Linked DNA regions of Homo sapiens. The protein of the gene in region 5 interacts with the protein of the main gene of each other region in a biochemical or structural test. Each region holds a gene or a part of one and is shown on either strand. Other genes may lie near its edges.

The links.
Region 1: the proteins of PPP1R14A (region 5) and CSNK1A1 form a complex in vitro, tested with the Homo sapiens proteins (one study listed by BioGRID).
Region 2: the proteins of PPP1R14A (region 5) and DAPK1 form a complex in vitro, tested with the Homo sapiens proteins (one large-scale study listed by BioGRID and IntAct).
Region 3: the proteins of PPP1R14A (region 5) and PRKCH form a complex in vitro, tested with the Homo sapiens proteins (one study listed by BioGRID).
Region 4: the proteins of PPP1R14A (region 5) and CSNK1G1 form a complex in vitro, tested with the Homo sapiens proteins (one study listed by BioGRID).

What each region holds. Positions count from the first base shown.
Region 1 is NC_000005.10:149,502,924-149,506,445, reverse strand, and holds part of CSNK1A1 (casein kinase I isoform alpha), read left to right. Parts: intron 1-850; coding exon 851-999; intron 1,000-3,522.
Region 2 is NC_000009.12:87,696,858-87,700,379, reverse strand, and holds part of DAPK1 (death-associated protein kinase 1), read right to left. Parts: intron 3,374-3,522; coding exon 3,176-3,373; intron 1,725-3,175; coding exon 1,586-1,724; intron 264-1,585; coding exon 143-263; intron 1-142. UniProt on the Homo sapiens protein: Calcium/calmodulin-dependent serine/threonine kinase involved in multiple cellular signaling pathways that trigger cell survival, apoptosis, and autophagy.
Region 3 is NC_000014.9:61,548,579-61,551,498, forward strand, and holds the end of PRKCH (protein kinase C eta type), read left to right. Parts: intron 1-1,106; coding exon 1,107-1,253; 3' UTR 1,254-2,398; downstream 2,399-2,920. UniProt on the Homo sapiens protein: Calcium-independent, phospholipid- and diacylglycerol (DAG)-dependent serine/threonine-protein kinase that is involved in the regulation of cell differentiation in keratinocytes and pre-B cell receptor, mediates regulation of epithelial tight junction integrity and foam cell formation, and is required for glioblastoma proliferation and apoptosis prevention in MCF-7 cells.
Region 4 is NC_000015.10:64,216,674-64,220,195, reverse strand, and holds part of CSNK1G1 (casein kinase I isoform gamma-1), read left to right. Parts: intron 1-3,482; coding exon 3,483-3,522.
Region 5 is NC_000019.10:38,250,722-38,253,381, reverse strand, and holds the end of PPP1R14A (protein phosphatase 1 regulatory subunit 14A), read left to right. Parts: intron 1-407; coding exon 408-488; intron 489-1,043; coding exon 1,044-1,076; intron 1,077-1,935; coding exon 1,936-2,064; 3' UTR 2,065-2,145; downstream 2,146-2,660. UniProt on the Homo sapiens protein: Inhibitor of PPP1CA. Has over 1000-fold higher inhibitory activity when phosphorylated, creating a molecular switch for regulating the phosphorylation status of PPP1CA substrates and smooth muscle contraction.

The DNA.
Region 1 (3,522 bases), on a different chromosome or scaffold from region 5:
GCCCGACATGGTGAAGCCCCATCTTTACTAAAAATACAAAAATTAGCCGGGTGAGGTGGTGCTCACCTTTAATCCCAGCGACTCGGGAGGCTGAGGCAGGAGAATCTCTTGAACCTGGGAAGCGGAGGTTGCAGTCAGCTGAGATCCCCCCAGTGCACTCCAACCTGGGTGACAATGAGGCTCTGTCTCAAAAGAGAAAAACAAAGAATTCAAGTAATCTGCCAGGTGCAATGGCTCACACCTATAATCCTAGCACTTTGGGAGGCCGATGGGGGTGGATCACCTGAGGCCAGGAGCTCGAGACCAGCCTGGCCAACATGGTGAAACCCCGTCTCTGCTACAAATACAAAAATTAGCTGGGTATGGTGGCAGGCGCCTGTAATCCCAGCTACTCAGGAGGCCGAGGCAGGAGAATTGCTTGAACCTGCGAGACGGAGGTTGCAGTGAGCCGAGATTGCACCACTGCACTCCAGCCTGGGCAACAAGAGCAAAACATGGTCTCAAAAAAAAAAAGAGAGAATTCAGGTAATCTTTTAACCCCAGAAAAGTGTCTTCCCCAGGTACCAGTCAGACATCTTATTCCCAAACTTCCAGTTGAATATTTACTCTTACTTGTTTTTAGGAAGTACCTCCTCTTATGAGTATTCCCCTAGATAACTGACAGCTTGATTTCATGTTTCAGTTTTCATGCTGCCTTTTTCATCTATAATAAGAAATATTTTAGAAGCTGCCACACTTGAGGAAATATTCGTTGTGTAAAGAAATGCTGTCACTGTCTTAAAAAGTTAGTAGGTTATATAACTGGACTCTGTTATTAAAGGATTAACATAAAATATTTTATGTGTTCCAGGACCCTGAACCATCAATATGACTACACATTTGATTGGACAATGTTAAAGCAGAAAGCAGCACAGCAGGCAGCCTCTTCCAGTGGGCAGGGTCAGCAGGCCCAAACCCCCACAGGCAAGCAAACTGACAAAACCAAGAGTAACATGAAAGGTTAGTAGCCAAGAACCAAGTGACGTTACAGGGAAAAAATTGAATACAAAATTGGGTAATTCATTTCTAACAGTGTTAGATCAAGGAGGTGGTTTTAAAATACATAAAAATTTGGCTCTGCGTTAAAAAAAAAAAGACGTCCTTGGAAAATTTGACTACTAACTTTAAACCCAAATGTCCTTGTTCATATATATGTATATGTATTTGTATATACATATATGTGTGTATATTTATATCATTTCTCTTGGGATTTTGGGTCATTTTTTTAACAACTGCATCTTTTTTACTCATTCATTAACCCCCTTTCCAAAAATTTGGTGTTGGGAATATAATATAATCAATCAATCCAAAATCCTAGACCTAACACTTGTTGATTTCTAATAATGAATTTGGTTAGCCATATTTTGACTTTATTTCAGACTAACAATGTTAAGATTTTTTATTTTGCATGTTAATGCTTTAGCATTTAAAATGGAAAATTGTGAACATGTTGTAATTTCAAGAGGTGAGTTTGGCATTACCCCCAAAGTGTCTATCTTCTCAGTTGCAGAGCATCTCATTTTCTCTCTTAAATGCTCAAATAAATGCAAAGCTCAGCACATCTTTTCTAGTCACAAAAATAATTCTTTTATTTGCAGTTTACGTATGATCTTAATTTCAAAACGATTTCTTTGTTTTTGGCTTGATTTTTCACAATGTTGCAAATATCAGGCTCCCAGGGTTTAATGTGGAATTGAAGTCTGCAGCCAGGCCTTGCAAATTGAAGGTAACTGGGGCAAATGCCATTGAAACCGCTAGTCTTATTTCCTTTCTACTTTTCTTTGGCACTCTTACTGCCTGTAAGGAGTAGAACTGTTAGGGCACACTGTTGCTATACAGTTTAACTCCCATTTTCATGTTTTGTCTTTCTTTTCCCATTTCTGGGGCTTACCTCCTGATACCTGCTTACTTTCTGGAAGTAGTGGGCAAGTAAGATTTGGCTCTTGGTTTCTAATTTTTAAATTTCTGAATACTGCCCTAGTCTGAACTTGGCCTTTATAGATTAATCTTTGCTTCACATTTTTAGTGTTGTATTTAAACTATTTTATAATTTAAAAATAGATTCTAATCTGAAGATACTTTTCAAGAAATATTATTAACTGATGTCATCCTCATCCCAGCAGCTCATCTGTTAGGAATGAAGTTGAGATGCTTCTATTCCATGTTTTTGTATTTGGGAAGGATTCAAAGTTGAAGGTTTATTGTCGTTGGGTTTTTCAGATGGTGACATGTAAACTCAGGATAGCAAACCCTAATGTTCACACAGTGCTCTGCCTCTGCATCTCAGTTGGGATAGTTGCTCCTTTTGAGTGTTTTAATCATCGTATAACTAATCATAGTGCCAAGAAGTTCATAATGTGTTATGTAGCTAATGTCACTGAAAAACAGTCCTACCATTTTAGGTAAGACCAAACAGAGTCTCTAACCCAAGGACTTGTTACACCTGACAACCTATAGTATATTTGCTTTTTCTCACAAAATGAAACCAATTTTGCCGAAAGCTAGCTGGGATAATAGGATCATCACAAGTTGCAGTTTCTATAACTAAAATTAGATTGAAATCTCTTCTGACCTAGAACATTTTACTTCAGGCATTCAGCAGATTTCAGAAAGAATTACCTTATTTTAAGTTAGTTTCTTTGTTAGTTTACTGTGTGTCTCTTATTCAATAAACAAGCAGAATTTGTGTCCTGCCCTATCCATGTCTTAAAGATGAGAAGTTGGATCCACTGAGTTAGTTTCATTGGGGCGGGGGAAAGAACTGTAATTAAACTTGTTTAATCCTTATTTTGTATTGTAGCTATTTTTTGTAAAAGCAACTTAAAATCTTTTAAAAATTTTATAGTGACATTAGAGACAATGGTCATACAAATTATCACATAAACATGGACTTGAAAAATTAGGCTTTTCATAAAACACATCACATGTCATTGACTGCTTTTTAGAAATACACTTCCAAGGCAGTACATCTGTATTGCTACTGAAAAGTGCCATTTCACAGAACACAGACTTCTTTTTGCTCTTTGACATCTTGAAAACATCTGTTTTTCTTTTTTAATACAAAACTTTGTGCTCAAGACAAATCTTACATGAAACTCTCATAAACCATGAAAATGTAGCTGGCCTTCGGGCCTTAGGCATGAAATAAGCATGAGGAACATATTCCCCTAACTTCTACCCCCAGCCCAGCAAGTTATCCTTTAAGAAATCTCCTAGGAATTCTGGAGTTTGAAAACAATTGCTCTATGTTATTCCTGCTTCCAGTCTCTAAGTAACAAGGGCATTTAAAAGCATAGTCTCTTAAGGTCCACTATAGTGGTTCTTTATTTAAGGAATAACTCAGCTGGGTGCAGTGGCTCACGCCTGTTATCCCAGCACTTTGAGAGGCTGAGGCAAGCAGATCACTTGAGGCCAGGAGTTCGAGAGTCTGGCCAACATGGTGGAAACCCATCTCTACAAAAAATACAAAAATTAGCCAGGTGT
Region 2 (3,522 bases), on a different chromosome or scaffold from region 5:
TTCTTTTCCCAGGGCACTAGGATAAAGACATGTCCAGGCAGACACCTCTTACTGGGTCCTACTATGAAGCAGTTCCCTGAAACCAGAGGCAAACCAGGAAGGAAGTACAAAGGGGTCCAGGCTCTTTCCATGGTGTACTTACCGAAACAATCTGGCTTCGTATTTCTTGCAGATGATTTCGAAGTACCTTCATGTCCTTTGACCCAGAAGCCCCAGCATCCAGAACAAACAGCTTATTTGAAATGTGAAGATCATTTCCAAACCTAAGGGAAGAGCAGCAGCCTCCTCAGCAGTGAGTCAATGTCCCCAGGCCTTTTAATGGAGGGGCCAGGCTCCTACTGGCTCAAGAGGCTGGTAGGAGGGAAGGAAAGTTCTGGTGTCCTTGCAAAGGCCCCTCCCCATCCCTGCTGTTGGTGGGCTCTGCCTCATCACAGTGGGTGCAGAGACTTGGGGAAACTGGCATATAGTCTGAGTCATAGGAGCGGGACCTTCAGGTTTGCATGAAGCAGCAGGAGCACAGCATGGAAAGATGTCAGCTTCTCCCGAGGCAGGAAAGGTGAGGCCTAATGCTCGCACCTTACAAGTGAGGACAAGAGATACTGTGGAAAGTGGAGGGACTAAGAATAGAGGTGTGAATGCAAAAGCTACATCACTGACCTAAAAATATTAATAGAAGCCCCATTTTTATATCTGGCAACAGATATAGTGTCTCAAGACAATAGATAAATGTCTCAAGTTGATAATGCAAGATCAGAGATACTAGCATATTATAGAAAGCTGCAGGTTCAAACTGTTTTGATAGACTCTGAGTAAAAACATATATTTTACATCATAATCCTGTACATACCCATACTCATCAGTGAAACAAACGTTTTACAAAATAATACTTGACATCTGATCTATCCTATCCTGTCCTGTCCTTTCCTGTCCTATCCTATCCCATTCCATTCCATCCCATTTTAAAAAGAATTGGCCACGACTTCCTAAATGAATTTTAAGACTCACTAGTAGGTTGCAACTTATATTGTAAGACATACTGATTAGTGTTTCTGAACACTGAATACTGAGTACTGAAATCTAAACAGCTAAAAGAAGTCACCTCCGGGCAGTGTTGCTGGGAGGTAGAAAGAAGGGGGTTGCTTTCATCACGTGCTCTTCATTTGTATTTGATTTACTATGTGGATTCATTGTTTTAATAAAAATGAAAAATAAAGGTTGTGCATCCCTAATCCAGAAATCTGAAATGTTCCAAAATCCAAAAACCTTTTGGGCAAAGACAAGACATGCAAAGGAAATGGTTATTAGAGCATTTCAGATTTAGAATTTTTGAACTAGGATGTTCAACTGCTATGTATATGTACATATATTAAAATCCAAACAAATAAGAAATCAGAAACACTTCTAAAGCCGATCATTTCCAATAAGGGATACAAGACCTGTACAAGAAAAGAGTTGACCAAGAAAGAAAGACCTTTAAAACCTTTCTCTGGTTCATGAGACTTCCTTTGTACTTTTCACACCTCTGCTTCAGTTCTCAGGGAGAGGAGGCTACCCGTGAGCTGGAGACTAAGTGGCTGCCCCTCACCTGTTCCTAATCTCTTTCAGCAACGATGTGTCTTTGTCATATCCAAACTCGCCTCCAGCCGGTCGAGGAACATTCATGATGTCAGCGTGGGTGGCCACCAGGACAACTTGGAGTGGGTTCTTCAGCTTGCCACCGAAGGCTGGGGGCAGAGAGGGAACTGCTTCAGGGGGTGGGTCCTCCTACCTGGCTGCCTCTCCTGCCCAGGTGAGGGCGGTGTGTTGGCCTCATGCCCAGGCCGACTCTCCAGGTACAAGTGCAACATGCCACAGAGATGAAGGCCCCACGCCTGCTGTGCACTGTGACCCTAGAAGGCCCCAGCATGGCCAACGACAGGATAAGCCTATCTCCTAGGCCACAAGGAAAATTGCTCAAAGTGGACCAGAATGACTAAAGGCAGTTTCTCAAGTCTCCAAATAGCCCCTACTTACAAGGAGAGGGAAAATTTAACCTGTGACAAAAGGGATGCCGCTTACAAGACCAAAGAGAGACGCCTGAGTGCAGCAACACCACAGAGATGGGTCAGAGGTAAATGACCTGCAAGTCACACAAAGAGCCTCCCACTTCGGGGAGTGTTTAAAACAAAGGAAAAAAAGGACAAAGAAAGAGGCAAAACTGGCAGTACCCAGAGGGGCATTAAGCCCAACTCCTTGTATTATATGCTTTTCCGGAAAGAAAAAAAATTGACTGCTGAGTATTGCATTTCACCAGGGAAGGCTGCTTCTCTTGTTGTGGGCAAAGACCAAAGGAAGTTTATTTCATGTTATCCTCTCCTCTAGGAATAAAGTTAAGATAACACATTCAGTCAACATGCTCCCTTTCTTCATTTCTCTCTCTTTTTTTTTGAGACAGGGTCTCACTGTGTCACCCAGGCTAAGTGCAGTGGCACGATCTTGGCTCACTGCAGCCACAGCCTCCCAGGTTCAAGCAATCCTCCTGCCTCAGCCCCTGAAGTAGCTGGGACTACAGGCACATGCCACCACACCTGGCTAAGTTTTTGTATGTTTTGTAGAGATGAGGTTTTGCCATGTGGGCCAGGCTGGTCTTGAACTCCTGAGCTCAAGGCATCTGCCCACCTTGGCTTCCCACAGTGCTAGGATTACAGCCGTGAACCACTGCACCCGGCCTCTTTCTTTGTTTCTTAGTGGAATTACAGGATGAAGAACTGCTCATTCTGCTGACTAATTCTGTACCCTTTAGGTAAAGGTGCAGTAGCTATCCAAGCAGGGATTCCATTTTGCACCCAACATACAATGACCATGGCTCTCAAGTGTAGAAAAAAAGTGAGAAATGCCTCTCAAAGGATTGTTCAAAGTGGGCCTTTGAGGCAGGAATATGCAATCATGAAACAAAAACAGCCTGCAGAATACCACGAACACTTGAGCCTCATGAAGCTTCTCAGAGTGGAAGTCTCCCAGCAGGAAGGAGAAAGGAAGTTGGCTCAGCTGTTAGCCACAAACGGTGGGATCTGCTCATGGCCTGGTGCAAGGCCAGCAGCAGCAGTGGCAGGAGCAGGGCAGAAGCCTGGAAGGAGGAGGCGATTCCTGGCCAACCACAGGTAGGACATCACTGGCCTGCAGGGACTTAGCTCACCTATGGGTTCTTCAACTGGGACAAGGGACTTCAGGAAACTGAGCCAGAAAATCACTTGGTTCAGCTGGATCTCATAGGGCTCTTCTAGACTAAAGACAACAACATGGATTGACGTGGGATCATTTGCAGCAAAATAGTCATAACAGCAGAAATACACAGGATTTCCAGAGAACTCCCACACGCTGAAATCGCCAACTCCTACAGAAAAAGAAAAATGATAACAATCGTGAAACACCACTAACCAAATTTCAATCATAAATTCTCTTAGCGTTCCACGGATTCGAAGTAGGCATAGTGATACTTATGGCATTCTTCTGTATGTGTATACATCTTGTTATGACTTGGGT
Region 3 (2,920 bases), on a different chromosome or scaffold from region 5:
ACCTGGCGTGGTGGCTCATGCCTATAATCCCAGCACTTTGGGAGGCCGAGGCAGATGGATCACTTGAGGTCAGGAGTTTGAGACTAGCCTGGCCAACATGGCAAAACCCCATCTCTACTAAAAATACAAAAAAAAAAAGCCTGGTGTGGTGATGCACACCTCTAATCCCTGCTACTCAGGAGGCTGAAGTAGAAGGATTGCTTGAACCTAGGAGGTGGAGATTGCAGTGAGCCGAGATTGCGTCATGCGCTCCAGCCTGGGCAACTGAGTTAGACTTTGTCTCAAAAAAAAAAAAAAAAAAGTGATAGAGAAATATCATTGATTAAGGTAAGAGCAGTGAGATGTGTGATACTCACTTAGAAATGATCTTTGCAGCGTTTGTTTATACAGATATAAAATACTCAACTTTTAAAAACATACAGTGCACTTAATCACTAACAGCCTACTAGGCTGTTGGACACCAGGCACCCAGAGGTAAAGCCGTTCCTTCAATGGTCAGCCCCCTGCCAGCGCCCCTGGGATTAGGGAGAGCATGGCCTTCAGAGGCTGGAGCCTGTAGTCCTAACTGCACAGCTGGTCCAGCAGGGCGTAACGCATCTACCTAGAGAGTAAAATGACCAACAGTTGTTCCCTAAGCTCAGCACTTGCAAGAAATCTTTTGGGAAGATCTCTTCAAATGTCTAGAACTCTGCGCAAACAATAGGTAGGACAAGTGTGAACCTACCCAACCTCTGTTGACAAATACAGCTGCACACCCCTCAGCGAGGCCTGCTGTGAAATGCCACCTTGGTGAAATGAGAATAAAGGGTGAGTGAGCCAGCTGCTTTTGGATGACCAAATTAATTCTTAGCCTCCCATTAAGACAGGCCTGCTCAGCAAGATTTTCATGGGATTAGTGAATTGGTGGTTGCCAAATGCCATAATAATGCACCATGCAGTAGACTTGCTGTAAAGCACAGTTTCATCATAACAATAACTGTAAATAATGCTACTGAACAAGCTACAGAGCACTCCTCTGAACTCACTGGAATGGGCTATATCCCATGCAAGATGAGTAAGCCTCAAGCGCAAAAATCTCACCCTTGTTTCCCTTTTTTTTTTGGCAGAAATCCCGAGAAGATGTCAGTAATTTTGACCCTGACTTCATAAAGGAAGAGCCAGTTTTAACTCCAATTGATGAGGGACATCTTCCAATGATTAACCAGGATGAGTTTAGAAACTTTTCCTATGTGTCTCCAGAATTGCAACCATAGCCTTATGGGGAGTGAGAGAGAGGGCACGAGAACCCAAAGGGAATAGAGATTCTCCAGGAATTTCCTCTATGGGACCTTCCCAGCATCAGCCTTAGAACAAGAACCTTACCTTCAAGGAGCAAGTGAAGAACTCTGTGAAGGATGGAACTTTCAGATATCAACTATTTAGAGTCCAGAGGGAGCCATGGCACTAGAAATAGTTGATAATGAAATGAGATTTTATGAAGTATACCGCTCCACCTATGAGCGTCTGTCTCTGTGGGCTTGGGATGTTAACAGGAGCCAAAAGGAGGGAAAGTGTGAAGAATAAAGTAGATCTGAGAAATTCTGAGCCAATCAGGCTTCTTAATTCAAGAGACAAACCAAGACGTTCTGTCAACTGTGCTGTGCTCTTCTTTAAGCCAATGAACCCCAATTCCTGGCAGTCTACAAGAAGTCTCTTAATGCTAATGAAGAATTTAAAGGTCTTTTTAAGGAAATGAAGGGCTTTCCAAATAGAATGATTTACTCTGAAGAAACAAACAATGGTATCTCTGAAACTCACAACCTAAAGCCCAATCTTGAAAATATGTTGTGCACCAAGACGACTGCTTCAGCTTCTTCTCTTATCCTTACTTTCTTTAATAGATATTTATTAAACTGTCCAGTGAAAAGGTGCCACAATGCCCAGTATTGTAAACAACAGGTTTGCATTCATGAAGCTTTCATTCATTCTGGAGTCTACTAATTTACCTGAATGGTGTTTGCATTCTGTGAAATGCCTCTCCACGTTGCATATGTCACACTTTTGTCTGCACATAACTCTTTTTTCACAAGAAGGGTCACTGCCACAACAGCACAGTCAGCGGGTGAATTACAGGTGCCTGCTGCCTGCCTACCTGGGTAATCTGATCTTGTCTGTATCGCCGTGTGCTCATCACTGAAGAATTGCAGGCCACTCATGTCAGTGACCAGATTTGTGGCTTATAAACATTAGCAGTTTATTTATGTTTTAAGATGCAAAGATGTGTGTTTGATATTCACTTTAATAATTAGAAATGGATCTTGTAAACAGGGCATATATCAAAGATGACCTTATAATATGTACCCGAATATACAGTTCAAGAATTTTGTCTGACTGGAAATAAATGCATTTTGTAGCAAAAGGAAGTGTTTTGACTAGAATGATTTGTCTCCTTCCCACTAAGACAGTAGATTTCCAATCAAAATAAAACCTTGAGCAGAATGGGTAGAACTCAACTCACAGAAAATTCCTGAGAGGAGAGGTTGATGTAAGTTCTTCTGTGATTCTCTGAAGTAGATGTGGCCTGTCTCTTACTGACCAAAACTTCTGTCCTGAATGAGGGTGATGACTGCTAAGCATAGCTGTAACAGACCAACCCTCAAGATCTCAGGGGCTAGACACCATAAATGTTTATTTCTCATTCACATAAAGTAGCATGTAAGTTCAACAATCTTCCTCCATCTTATAACTACACTATCTGGAAAATGTAGCTTTCCAAAGTCTCCAGAGCAAGGAAGAGACATGGAGGGGGCGCCGGCTGCCTGCCTGCCTCTCCTAGGAGGGACACACCTCACCTCTTCTCACAATGACTGGCTAAAACATGGCTTCCCTCTAACTACAGACGGGATAGGGGAATTATAGAGCAGCTGAGGAGTAGCTGGCT
Region 4 (3,522 bases), on a different chromosome or scaffold from region 5:
TTGAACCCAAGAGGCGGAGGTTGCAGTGAGCTGAGACCACGCCACTGCATTCCGGCCTGAGCAACAGAGCAAGACTCTGTCTCAAAAAAAAAAAAAAAAGTTATGTTATTTTAAAAGAAGGGGAGGCTGGGCGTGGTGGCTCACACCTGTAATGCCAGCACTTTGAGAGGCCAAGGCAGGCAGATCACGAGGTCAGGAGATCGAGACTATCCTGGCCAACATGGCGAAATCCCATCTCTACTAAAAATTTAAAAATTAGCTAGGTGTGGTGGTACGTGCCTGTAATCCCAGCTACTTGGGAGGCCGAGGCACGAGAATCACTTGAACTCAGGAGGTGGAGGTTGCATTGAGCTGAGATCGTGCCACTGCACTCCAGCCTGGCAACAGAGCGAGACTCTGTCTCAAAAAAAAAAAAAAAGAAAAGAAAAGAAAAAGAAAAAAAGAAGGGGAGAGGCATCCCTGTAATCTTAGCACTTGGGAGGTCAAAGCAGGAGGATCAGTTGAGCCCAGAAATTCAAGACCAGCCTGGACAACATAGTGGGAGCTCATCTCTGGAAAAAATTTAAGAAACTAGCCCGATGTGGTGTCATGTGCCTGTGCTCCCAGCTGTTTGGGAGGCTGAGGCAGGAGGATTGCTTGGTCCCAGGAGGTCGAGGCTGCAGTGAGCCATGGTCATACCACTGCCCTCCAGCCTGGGTGACACAGTGAGACACTGTCTCAAAAGAAAAAAGGAGAGGGAGAATGGATATTGGGCATGCAAACAACAGGCGCTGCCACAACCTGCTTTGAAGAATATAATATTTATATTAGGAAAATAACATTTTAGTGGCATTAAATCCTTATATAGGACATAAATTTAAAAGATCCCCAAACTGCATTTACCATGTGTCTGATTAATAAAAGCAGTAAATCTCTAGGACAGAGTGTTCTGCTTTGGATGTCTCAGCAGGAGTCATTGGAAACAACTAGTTGGGTTTTATATATTTTTAAAAAGCTGAAAAATGACTTCTTCAAAACAACCGGGAAAAAAAGACTCTTTGGGGCCTGGTGTGGTGGCTCACGCCTGTAATCCCAGCACTTCGGGAGGCTGAGGCGGGCGGATCACCTGAGGTCAGGAGTTTGAGGCCAGCCTGGCCAACATGGGGGAACGCTGTCTCTACTAAAAATACAAAAATTAGCTGGGCGTGGTGGTGTGCACCTGTAATCCCAGCTACTCAGGAGGCTGAGGCAGGAGAATGGCTTGAACTCGGGAGGCGGAGGTTGCAGTGAGTCGAGATGGCGCCAGTGCACTCCAGCCTGGGCTACAGAGTGAAACTCCATGTAAAAAAAAAAAAAAAAAAAAACACTTCAAATTAAATCCTTTTCTCTTTTGGAGATAGGGAGAATCAAGACAACAACAAAAACAATTGAACAGATATTTATTGAACTAGCAGGAGTAACATATGTTAGAGGATACAAGCTAGGAATAAACATATTTAAAGAAAATGTTCAAGTTGTTTAGGATTTAGGCCGGGCATGGTAGCTCTCGCCTGTAATCCCAGCATTTTGGGAGGCTGAGGTGGATGGATCACTTGAAGTCGGGAGTTCGAGAGCAGCCTGGCCAACATGGCAAAACCCTGTCTCTCCAAAAAATGCAAAAAAAAATTGGTGGACACCATGCCTGTAATCTCAGCTACTTGGGAGGCTGAGGCGCAAGAATTGCTTGAACCCAGGAGGCGGAGGTTACAGTGGGCCAAGATTGCGCCACTATACTCCAGCCTGGGTGACAGAATGAGACTCTGTCTAAAAAAAAAAAAAAGTTGTTTAGGATTTAATGAATCAAGATAGACTAATACAATATATGAAATAGTTATTAATTCCAAATATGTGAGACCTACCCTCGAGAGAAGTATGTGTTAGATGTACATCTGTCTATATCCCACCCATAGAAATAAAAAGGGAATGGGGCTGGACACAGTAGCTCATGCCTGTATTCCCAGCACTTTGGGAGGCCAAGGAGGGAGGATTGCTTGAGCTTGGGAGTTGTTCAGGACCAGCCTGAGTAACATAGTGAGACCCCATCTCTATAAAAAATCAAAAATTTAGTCTGGTGTGGTAGAGCGAGCCTACAGTCCCAGCTGCTACTTGGGAGGCTGAGCTGGGAAGATCGCGTTAGTCCGGGAGGCAGAGATTGCGAGCCGAGATCTTACCACTGCACTCCAGCCTGGGTAACACTGAGACCTTGTCTCAAGTTAAAACACTTAGAGGCAGAAGCAAACAATAATCTACAACATATGCAACTGTAGACCACTATATACATAAATATATAAGATGGGAATGTTTCTGCTCTGTGAAACCAGATAATTTTTTAAGTGTTCTATAATCTTTTTTTTTTTTTTTTGAGATGGAGTCTCGCTCTGTCACCCAGGCTGGAGTGCAGTGGCGCCATCTCAGCTCACTGCAACCTCCGCCTCCTGAGTTCAAACGATTCTCCTGTCTCAGCCTCCTGAGTAGCTGGGACTATAGGTGCGTGCCACCATGCCCAGCTAATTTTTGTATTTTCAGTAGAGACAGTTTCACCATGTTGGCCAGGCTGGTCTCAAACTCTTGACCTTGTGATCCACTCACCTCAGCCTCCCAAAGTGCTGGACTTACAGGCATGAGCCACTGCGCCTGGCGTCTGTAATCCTATTTAATATCTACTATTCTCATGGTACCAGTTATATATTTAGTGAATGCCTCATATTTACAATGCACTTTATAAAGGAAATTCATTCACAATTTGCCACTTAGGTGAGAAAGTCTGGATTTTGGCTTCTTAATAGTTATGAATTTCAAATCTGGGGAAAACCCAGCCTTGTGTTTTTTCCCCCTTTTCCTTTCATCAGCACTTATCAGCAACCAAACACTAAGTGTCTGTTGACTTTTCTCCAGCTGATAAAAAACAAAAAACTATAGAGACTCCCTGTGAAAAGAGGGCCAGTTGTGCTGGCCTGGGGCCAGGCTGCACGCTCTGTGACCTTGCCTCTTCAGTCTGAGTTGTCCATAGGGCAACAGTTCCAAATAGCCCATGTGGCTATGGCAGTAAGCATAGAGAGTGCTCATGAACCAGATAATGTAACAAGTTATGTTAGCCTGGCCTTTGAGCTCAGTGAGCCATCCTTTGAGCCTTTTATGATACTGCACTTTCAGGCATCCTTTTGGGAAGATCCAATGGATCAGGGACCATTCTCTATCTTATAGCAGTGGAAATGTTTTTGGCACTGTGGTATTAAATAACTACTCATTTGAACGTATTGTGCAATGACTTAGCCTTTCCCATCATTATTAGTTCCCATTGAAGCTGTTGTGCTCAGTTTGAGTTTCCAGTAGGGACTATGAAAGAAAATGGAAATCTCACAAATTGTACTTTTAAAAATATTTTATTCAGTGCTAATACTGTTATCTCATATTTTGGCTTTTGTGTCTCCCACTGTATACCCCCATTTCCCCTCTGCTTTCAGGTGAAGGTCTCCCACAGGTGTATTACTTTGGACCATGTGG
Region 5 (2,660 bases):
CAGCCTCTCCTCCCCTGCACCTAGTGCTAAGACTTTTCCTTGAAAGGGCAGAAGCCAGCTCCTCTCCCGAATCCCAGAATCTGACATTCCAGGACTCCACTAGGCCTGTTTTCCTCTGTGGGAACTAGAGCCAAGGCGAGAGACCCGTGCCAGCCCCGAGGCTCCCGGGGCCCATGGGCCCAGGCATCGGGCTGGTACAGGGCCCCGGGGCTCTCTCAGCCCATCTGTCACCCCTCCCCCCCAACACCCAGATGTCCCGTCTTGGCAGTGCTGTCCCGGACTGCCACATTAATGCTCCAGAACCCGCCAGCTGGGCCCTGGGGCCGGTGGGGCTCCTGCAGAGCCCTGGACAAAGGCGAGGGAGGGAGGGAAGGGGATCCTAAGCACCCCTCCCTCCCTGGCCCTAGGAGGCAGACATGCCCGATGAGATCAACATTGATGAATTGTTGGAGTTAGAGAGTGAAGAGGAGAGAAGCCGGAAAATCCAGGTAGGTGGGGGGACGTGTCCCCCAGCCTCCCACTTTGCACCTCCCTAAAAATAATAGCAATAGTTCACGTGTTTACTGAGTGCTCACTAGATGCCGGGCACTGGTGTGATGGCTTTACATGTATTCACTCACTTAACCCTCACAAAACCCTCCGAAGCAGGCGCTAGTGTGAGCTCCATTTTCCCCATGAGGAAAATGAGGCCCAGAGAGGTTGAATCCCTTGCCCAGTGTCACACAGCTCAGAAGGAGCAGAGCTGGGCATCGAACCCAGGCAGTTTGGCAGCCATGTCTTTGCTTATGGCTTATACCTTTTTAGAGGAGGGAAGTGCTGTGTGACCCTCTCGCCCTCTCTGGATCTAGTAACTCACCCCTGCCCTGAGTCGATCCACATGCCCCTTGGGCTCTGTTCCTCTCTTGAAGCTTGGTGGGCAGTCCACCCTGGAGTCTGACTTCCATTTGTCTTGCTGCTGGGGCCTTTTGGGAAAGGGAAGGGGCTGGAGGGGAGTAGGTGTTAGTCATTTACTGTTTTGTTTTGTTCTTGGTTGGGGGTTTTAGGGACTCCTGAAGTCATGTGGGAAACCTGTCGAGGTGAGTTTTCTCTCCCTCATTCTCTCCCTGTTCTGGCCCCAAGTACTCTGATGGGGGAGGGGGAAGAAGCTGGCAGAAGGGTCTCTGGGGAACACCACCCGGCCCCACCACCCCCGGCCCCAACCTGCCCTCCGCAGCTCTTTCTGGTCTCCAGGGGTGTCTTTTGTCCTCCTACTTGTCTCTCTCCCTCTCTCCCCCATCTGCTGAGGGGGCTCCATTCTGTCCTCCCCCATCTGCCCTGTTTTTGCCTCTCCTGTGCCTGTCCTTTGGCCACCAGCCTTCGGGCTCAGTCTCCCTCTGTCCTCCCCTGTCACTGCCTCCGCCACCCCGGGCTCCCTTCCCCACCTCTGGGGGCCCTCCATCCTCCCAGGCCCTGAAGCTGAGCGGCCCAACCCCTCCCACTTCCTTCCCTGCTTTAAAAGGGAAAACTATTCATGTTTCTCCAACTAGCTCTAGGGACAAACGTCATTGCATTTCTGTTCGCCCTGGATCTATCTCTGGGGACCTGTCTCCACATGTCTCTGTTTCTTTCTCTGTCCTTATGTCTCTCTCTGTCTCTATCTCTACATGTCTCTCTGTTTCTGTGTCTGTTTCTCCCCCTCCCCCACTCCGTATCTGTCTCCTTGGATCTCTATCTCTCTTCCTAGCTCTTTCTCTCCATCCCTCCCATCGCCCTTTCCCCATCTCTGTCTTTCTCCCGGCTCACTTTTCTCTCTATGTCTATAGCCTCCGCCCCTAACTCCCCCCACCCCACAATCAGAGAACAGGAGGAGGCGCCCAGGTCAGGGACTGGGCTGGACAGGGGCAGAGGGTGCCCCCGCACTGTTCCCATGTTCTCAGCTCCCCCACCCTGTCTCAGGACTTCATCCAGGAGCTGCTGGCAAAGCTTCAAGGCCTCCACAGGCAGCCCGGCCTCCGCCAGCCAAGCCCCTCCCACGACGGCAGCCTCAGCCCCCTCCAGGACCGGGCCCGGACTGCTCACCCCTGACCCTCTTGCACTCTCCCTGCCCCCCGGACGCCGCCCAGCTTGCTTGTGTATAAGTTGTATTTAATGGTTCTGTAACAATAACACTGTGTGGCTGTTTTTCCTCCCCCCGGGTTACCATGGGCTTCCCCGAGCTCCCCCCACAACCTCCCTCTCTCCTCCTGTGGCCTCTGCTCATGTCCCTGTCCCAGCACTGCAGCTGGGCCTGCCAGATGGAGAATCACTCCTCCCGGGCCAGAAAGCATGAGAACGGGCCCTGCTGAGCCCACGCCCTTGGGATTTATATCCTAGACCTTGCCTTCCCTTGAACTCCCCACCCCACCCCCATCCCCAGTCCCAGCAAGCAGGGCCCCTATATGCAGGCTCCTGCAGGAATCTGGGTCAAGGGGCATGCTCATGACCAAAGGTGACCGATATTGACTCAGTACAGGTGATCACACAGCAAACAAATCATTCAGCCACTCCATGAAATCTGCGCTGTGCTTATAATGGCCCTTGGTACTGAGGCTGCAAAGATGAGAGGAAGATGGTCTCTGGCATCAAGGTGCTCACACACTATGGGGGGAGAAGGGCCTGAGTGTGAGAATCAGAACAAAGTG